Linked DNA regions of Homo sapiens. The protein of the gene in region 1 interacts with the protein of each later gene in a biochemical or structural test. Each region holds a gene or a part of one and is shown on either strand. Other genes may lie near its edges.

The links. The genes of interacting proteins can lie anywhere in the genome.
Region 2: the proteins of SYF2 (region 1) and MCM3 form a complex in vitro, tested with the Homo sapiens proteins (one study listed by BioGRID).

What each region holds. Positions count from the first base shown.
Region 1 is NC_000001.11:25,225,889-25,229,653, forward strand, and holds part of SYF2 (pre-mRNA-splicing factor SYF2), read right to left. Parts: intron 3,236-3,765; coding exon 3,110-3,235; intron 2,348-3,109; coding exon 2,230-2,347; intron 1,645-2,229; coding exon 1,554-1,644; intron 1-1,553. UniProt on the Homo sapiens protein: Involved in pre-mRNA splicing as component of the spliceosome.
Region 2 is NC_000006.12:52,264,143-52,267,882, reverse strand, and holds part of MCM3 (DNA replication licensing factor MCM3), read left to right. Parts: coding exon 1-18; intron 19-1,186; coding exon 1,187-1,272; intron 1,273-1,738; coding exon 1,739-1,808; intron 1,809-2,474; exon of another isoform or gene 2,475-2,497; coding exon of another isoform or gene 2,498-2,648; intron 2,649-3,096; coding exon 3,097-3,295; 3' UTR 3,296-3,740. UniProt on the Homo sapiens protein: Acts as a component of the MCM2-7 complex (MCM complex) which is the replicative helicase essential for 'once per cell cycle' DNA replication initiation and elongation in eukaryotic cells.

The sequences.
Region 1 (3,765 bases):
CTCACACCAATAATCCCAGCACTTTGGGAGGCCAAGGTGGGCACATCACCTGAGGTCAGGAGTTCAAGACCAGCCTGGCCAACATGGTGAAACCCCATCTCTACTAAAAATACAAAAAAATTAGCCAGGCGTGGTGGCGGGCACCTGTAGTCCCAGCTACTTGGCAGAAGAATCACTTGAACCCAGGAGGCGGAGGCTGCAGTGAGTCAAGATTGCACCACTGCACTCCAGCCTGGGCGACAGAGCGAGATTCTATCTCAAAAAAAAAATAAAAATAAAAATAAAAAATAAAAAATTACAGAATTGAAAGGAACCTAAGACATCATCTACGCCAACACCTTCACTGTACAGATCAAAGAGCCAACAGGCAGAGAGGCTCCAGGACTTATCAGAGGTCACAAAGTGCTAGGAACAGAGCTGGGATTAGAGCTCCATCCTGAGGTTATTTCCTTTTCCACTAAAACAAGCTGCCAAACTACAGCAGCCCACCACCTGTTTATGAAAAGAGGCTTCATTTATGAATTCTCTGCAGCTGCTTTTGCACTGCAGCAGCACAGCTGAATAGCTGTGACAGAGACTATATGGCCCACAAAGCTAAAATATTTACTATCTGGTCCTTCACAGAAAAAGTTCACCAACCCCAGCACTAAAGCATTCTGCCTCCTAAAATAATATCTAAGTAACTACGACAATCAGGGTGTTAACCAATCAACAACCAGTCTTAGAATGCCCAGTTAAGAACAAAACAAAAAACATGTGATTAATTTAATAGCTGTGAAGTAAGCAATAAACAGTGCTGTCAAAACAGAGACTAGGCCTGGCACAGTGGCTCACACCTGTAATCTCAACCATGTGGGAGGCCAAGGATGGAGGATCACTTGAGGCCAGGAGTTTGAGACAGCCTGAGCAACACAGTGAGACCCCGTCTCCACAAAAAAATTAATTAGCCAGGAATCGTGGCACATGTCTGTAATCCTAGCTACTGGGGAGGCTGATGTGGGAGGATCCCTTGAGGCCACAAGTTTGAGGTTACAGTGAGTTATGACAGTGTCAATGCACTCCAGCTTAAGCAACAGAGCGAGACACCGTCTCTTAAAAAAAAAAAAAGGAAGGGCCGGGCGCAGTAGCTCACGCCTGTAATCCCAGCACTTTGGGAGGCTGAGGTGGACGGATCACTTGAGGTCAGGAGTTCAAGACCAGCCTGGCCAACGTGGTGAAACCCCATCTCAGCTAAAACTACAAAAATTAGTTGGGCGTGGTGGCGGGCGCCTGTAATCCCAGCTACTCAGGAGGCTGAGGCAGAAGAATTGCTTGAACCCAGGTGGCGGAGGTTGCAGTGAGCTGAGACCGCACCATTCACTGCACTCCAGCCTGGGTGAGAAAGCAAGACTCCATCTCAAAGGAAAAAAATATCCAGAAAAAACAGAGACCATCCTTAGACAACTATTAATAACCCATACCTTAGCATTAAAGCATGTTTCTATTTATGTACATGTATACACACACACACACACAAATACATCCACATCACCTCAGGTTGAAAAAGGACTTACTGTTTTTCTCTCAGTCTCTCATATGTTTCCATGTCAGGTTTGATCTGCTTGGTCAACCGATGATACTGGCGTAACTGGGCAGCAGCATAATCTAAAAATATAAAATGAGAATCAGCGATAATATATTTCCTTGTTTGGACCTTCCTATTGAGAGAAAAATCTAAATTATCACAGGTGAGTATCTTTTATCCAAAACGCTTGGAATCGGAAGTGTTTCTGATTTTTTTCAGATTTTGGAATATCTTTATTATACTTAAATTCAAAATCTGAAATGCTCCAATCAGCATTTCCTTTGAGCATCATAGCACCATGTTGGCATTCAAACAGTTTTGGATTTTGCAACATTTGGGATTTCAGATTTTCATACTAGGGATACTCAATCTGTGTGAAGTAATATATGCCCATAACACTATTCTAAGCATAGCTTCTATCCTGAAGATGCTGACAAACAGACTTTGATAAATTTTATCATCAAGTATTTAAAAACCTGGCTAACTGAAGTACAGCCTTTTTTTTTAACTTCTCTCCTAAGAGACATATTTGTACTTTTCTTGGTCTTAAGCCTCATCAAGAATATCCCACGAAGCACAAGAGGCACATCCTTTCTTGAAACCAGAAACAATGAAGGAAATGACTAACAGCCCAGTCAATAAGGTTCAATAAAGGTCAATCTGACCTGAAAATCCCAGATCAGGGTTTTTCCTCTTCTTTTTCCTCTCCCATCTTTCTGCATCTTCTGCACTGATCTCCAGCAACTTCACTTTCTCATAGTCTTCTCCTCTTGCCGCACATTCCTAAAAAGAAGAAAAAAGCTGACACCTACAATTATGATACATGCAATAATTTGATCTACTTTACATCAAGAAAGATCCAATAAATATCAACCAATACTTTAATAGTATTTTTTTAGTTGGAGTTTCACTCACTCTGTCACGCAGGCTGGAGTGCAGTGGCGCGATCTCAGCTCACTGCAACCTCCACCTCCCAGGTTCAAGGGATTCTCATCTCTTAGCCTCCCAAGTAGCTGGGACTACAGGCACATGCCACCATGCCCGGCTAATTTTTGTATTTTTAGTAGAGATGGGGTTTCACCATGTTGGCCATGCTGGTCTCAAATTCCTGACCTCAAATGATCTGCCAGCCTCGGCCTCCCAAAAGTGCTGGGATTACAGGCATGAGCCACTGCACCCGGCCACTTTAATAGCATTTAAAGGAAATTTGGGAATATACTATGGTATATAAGTGAGCACATGATACTTATTGAGTGTTTATCAGGTGTCAGACCTTGTTTTAAATGTTTTACATGCATTAACTCACTTAATTCATAATGAACTCAAATAATTATTGTTACAGTCCCTGTTTTATTGATGAGAAAACAGAGGTACAGAGAAGTTAAATAAACTCACCCAACGTGTTGCAGTTGGTACTGAGCAGAGCCAGAATTTCAATTCTGGCAGCTTGGCCTAAGAGCCAGTGTATACAACCACCATGTTGTAGTGTCTTGATACAACAGAATGATTGACTAAATCACTTATGAAGATAGAATAGTTCCTAACCTTTTTCTTTTCCTCTTCCTTTAGTTCCCACTCCAAACGAGCTTTTTTGGCTTCCCAATTTGCAGGTAATTTTAGTCTTTTATCTTCTTCCACAACTTCCTGGTGATTTAATTTACGAGCTTCATTCTAAAACCGTAACACAAGAAGTCTGTCAGCTAAAACATGAAAATAAATCCAGATACACCTTGCCTTCTTTGAGGAGGGTCAGGCAGGACATATTAATAAGCTGACCCCATTTTATCCTAAAAGCAATAGAGAGCCATCACAGGATTTTAAGCCAGGGAATAGCCTAATAGGGTCTACGTTTTTATGCAGTCAAGAAAAATGTGTTGAGTTGCACTGGTTTGCTGTTCCAGAGCCCTGGAGGTTAAAATCAGCTTTGCCTCTATTGAGTTGTGTGGTCCCTTTTTATTGGATCAGAACAAGGTTTTGCAGTATTGGAGACCATACTATAGTGGCACTTAAGTAGACTTTATTTGGCATTACTATTAAATTGGCCAGGTGCAGTGGATCACGCTTGTAATCCTAGCACTTTGGGAGGCTGAGGCAGGTGGATCACCTGAGGTCAGAAGTTCAAGACCAGGCTGGCCAACATGGTGAAACCCCGTCTCTACTAAAAATACAAAAATTAGCGAGGCATGGTGGTGCACACCTGT
Region 2 (3,740 bases), on another chromosome or scaffold:
GGAGCAGAAGAGGAAGAGGTAAGGTGGGGCAAGCAAATGAGATTAAAAAGTTAGTGGCCAAGAAGTTGGGGGTGCACGCCTGTAATCTTAGCAATTTGGGAGGCCGAGGCGGGTGGGTCACTTGAGTCCAGGAGTTTGAGACCAGCCTGGGAAATATGGCAAAACTGTCTCTACAAAAAATAGAAAAATTAGCTGGGCGTGGTGGCGGACACTTGTGGTCCCAGCTGCTCGGTAGGCTGGGGTCGGAGGATTGCTTGAGCCTGGGAGGCAGAGGTTGCAGTGAACCAGGATCGTGCCACTGCACTCCAGCCTGGGCGACAGAGAGAGATCCCATCTCAAAAAAAAAAAAAAAAAGTAGTAAGTTCCAGTGGGACTGGGGAGAGAAGTAGAGGGTAGAAGGTGGAACCAGCGCTGCTTATTGATGTCAGGTTGTTCATGGAGAGTGTTCCTAGACCTGCGGGGTTTGAGGATGAAGATAACCTGGGTAGGCTGGGCGCGGTGGCTCACGCCTGTAATCCCAGCACTTTGGGAGGCCGAGGCAGGCGGATCACGAGGTCAGGAGATCAAGACCATCCTGGCTAACAGTGAAACCCTGTCTCTACTAAAAATACAAAAAATTAGGCTGGCGTGGTGGCAGGCACCTGTAGTCCCAGCTACTTGGGAGGCTGAGGCAGGAGAATGGCGTGAACCCAGGAGGCAGAGCTTGCAGTGAGTGGAGATCACACCACTGCACTCCAGCCTGGGTGACAGAGTGAGACTCCGTCCGTCTCAAAAAAAAAAAAAAAAGAAGATACCCTGGGTAAAAGAGAAGGAGAGCGAGTCCTTCTTGTGTGCTTTTGACCCCTCTACTGAAGAAATGCTAAATAGTAGGAACAGCAACCCAACCACTGAGGGTTTTGAATATATACTTCAAAATTCTAAGGGAAAAACCTTCATGCTTATAGTTGAATTTATAAGGGTGAGTGATGTGGAAAAGAGCGTTGGGAAGCAGCGCCTGTTTGTGTTCTAGTCTGGGGACTTGGTCTCGTTTGGAACAAGCAGCAGTTTGCAAAGGCCTAAGCCTAGTGCTTCACTTTGACTTAGTGGTTCTGTTTCCTTTTCTCCGTAGTTAGAGGCACGTGATGGGGCTTCCTTGCCTTTCTGTCTCCAAACTCTTTCTCTCTCTTAACTGCTGTGGGTATTTTAGAAGGAAGACTCGCCAGCCAGATGCCAAAGATGGGGATTCATACGACCCCTATGACTTCAGTGACACAGAGGAGGAAATGCCTCAAGGTGAGTGAGCCCACTTACTGATGAAAGAGGTTGTTCCTGTGACTCTTGGACTTTTCCAGTTGCTCTGTGCACTTTATTTTCTTGTGGACTCCTGTTTGTTTGGCTCCCTGCTTGGGGCCTATGTCCAAGAGGTTTGTCCCAAGAGAGCTTCAGGGGAAACTTTGGAAAAAGCTTTGCTATATTATATACACCTCCTTGATGAACTGTGCTGTGCTGTTTCACCTGGTATAAGCATTTCAGATAATATATACATTGAGGGTCTCCTGCCTGACTAAATTCCTTCATCATCCAATGAAGATTTCCCTATATCCTAATTGTTCTGCCTGGCCCCATAAGAACCCTAGGAAATAGGAGTGTTCAGCAGGCTGAGTGAGAGATTGGGAGTGGAGATGATTTCTCTAGTGTTTGTGGAAATGGCTTCACCTTGCTTATCTTCCCCATCTCTACAACCATCAACCCTCTGAAGTACACACTCCAAAGACGGCAGACTCACAGGAGACCAAGGAATCCCAGAAAGTGGAGTTGAGTGAATCCAGGTGAGTACGGATGTTGCTCCTGCCCCTTCAAGAATTCTGTGTATCGCTGAGGAAGGGACTTTGTTCCCTTGGAGAGGGTGGGAAACAAACTGCTGGTCATCAATAGAACTCAAAACTAGAGGCCTGCAGCTTTTAACATTTTATATTCTCATTTAATTTCAAACTTACTGAAAAGTTATGAGAAAAGCATGAAGAACTTCTGGATGTCCTTTACCCAGAATCTTCAGTTGTTTAAATTAATAATTCTCTCTTTCTGAGAGAGAAGAGTTTTACAATAAGGATAAAACTTAATGTCTTACTGTAACCTCAGATTCTTCTTGGTGGGATAGATACATTTTGGCCATTTGTTTTTGAAATGAAGAATTTTTACCACCAGGGTTTTAGGAAACATTTTTATCTATGAATTTTGTTTACTGGACACCAAGAAACTCCATAGCCAAGTTTTACGTTTTTTCTTTTTATACTTTAAACACATAATACAGTGTATTTACTGAAAAAAATTTGAAACACATTGAAAAGTATTTAGAAAAAAAATTAAAATCAATTGTAACTCTATCCCTCAAGGACAACCATCAACTGTATCTTAAAATGCTTGAATCAGCTCGTATAGATCTCACTTTTTTTTTTGAGACCGGAGTGCAGTGTTTATTTTTTACTTTTTTACAGTGTTTATTTTTTACTTTTTGTAGAGACGGGATCTCACCATGTTGCCCAGGCTGGTCTTGGACTCCTGGCCTCAAGCAGTCCTTCTACCTGAGCCTCCCAAAAGGCTGGGATTACAGGCATAAGCCACTGTGCTTGTTTGATCTCATTCTTTTTAATGACTGCAGGGTTTCCATGGTATGGATGGGTAAAAATTTAATGAAATTCTCTGATGATAGACATTTGGGTTGTTCCCTGTTTACAGTAAAACAGTATTAAATTTATCAGTGTGCACTCATGCAAGTATAGCTATAAGGTGAGTTCCTAGAAATGGGCTCCCTGGGCCAAAGGATATACGCTTTTAAGGGTTTAGTAAGTGCTGTTAAATTGTCCCGCATTGACGCTGACCGGGTTACTATTTTACAGTGAATGGGAATGCCAATTTCCCACACGCTAGTACAATAGTTTAGCTTTAAAGGGGGCTCCTCAAGGGTAGCACTGCCATCAGAGGCAGATGTGTGTGTGAGAAAGAATATTGAGGGGACGCCTCTACTGTATTAATACTATGGATTTTCCTAGTATAGCTGTTTCCTGAGAGCATTTGGGTTTGTTTACTCCTCTTCCCCCTTTCTTCTGTCTGGGGCAGGTTGAAGGCATTCAAGGTGGCCCTCTTGGATGTGTTCCGGGAAGCTCATGCGCAGTCAATCGGCATGAATCGCCTCACAGAATCCATCAACCGGGACAGCGAAGAGCCCTTCTCTTCAGTTGAGATCCAGGCTGCTCTGAGCAAGATGCAGGATGACAATCAGGTCATGGTGTCTGAGGGCATCATCTTCCTCATCTGAGGAGGCCTCGTCTCTGAACTTGGGTTGTGCCGAGAGAGTTTGTTCTGTGTTTCCCACCCTCTCCCTGACCCAAGTCTTTGCCTCTACTCCCTTAACAGTGTTGAATTCAACTGAAGGCGAGGAATGTTGGTGATGAAGCTGAGTTCAGGACTCGGTGGACCCTTTGGGAATGGGTCATGAAAGCTGCCATGGGGTGAGGAAAGAGGAGACAGTGGGAGAGGACAATGACTATTGCATCTTCATTGCAAAAGCACTGGCTCATCCGCCCTACTTCCCATCCCACACAAACCCAATTGTAAATAACATATGACTTCTGAGTACTTTTGGGGGCACAACTGTTTTCTGTTTGCTGTTTTTTTGTTTTGTTTTTTTTCTCCAGAGCACTTTGGTCTAGACTAGGCTTTGGGTGGTTCCAATTGGTGGAGAGAAGCTCTGAGGCACGTCA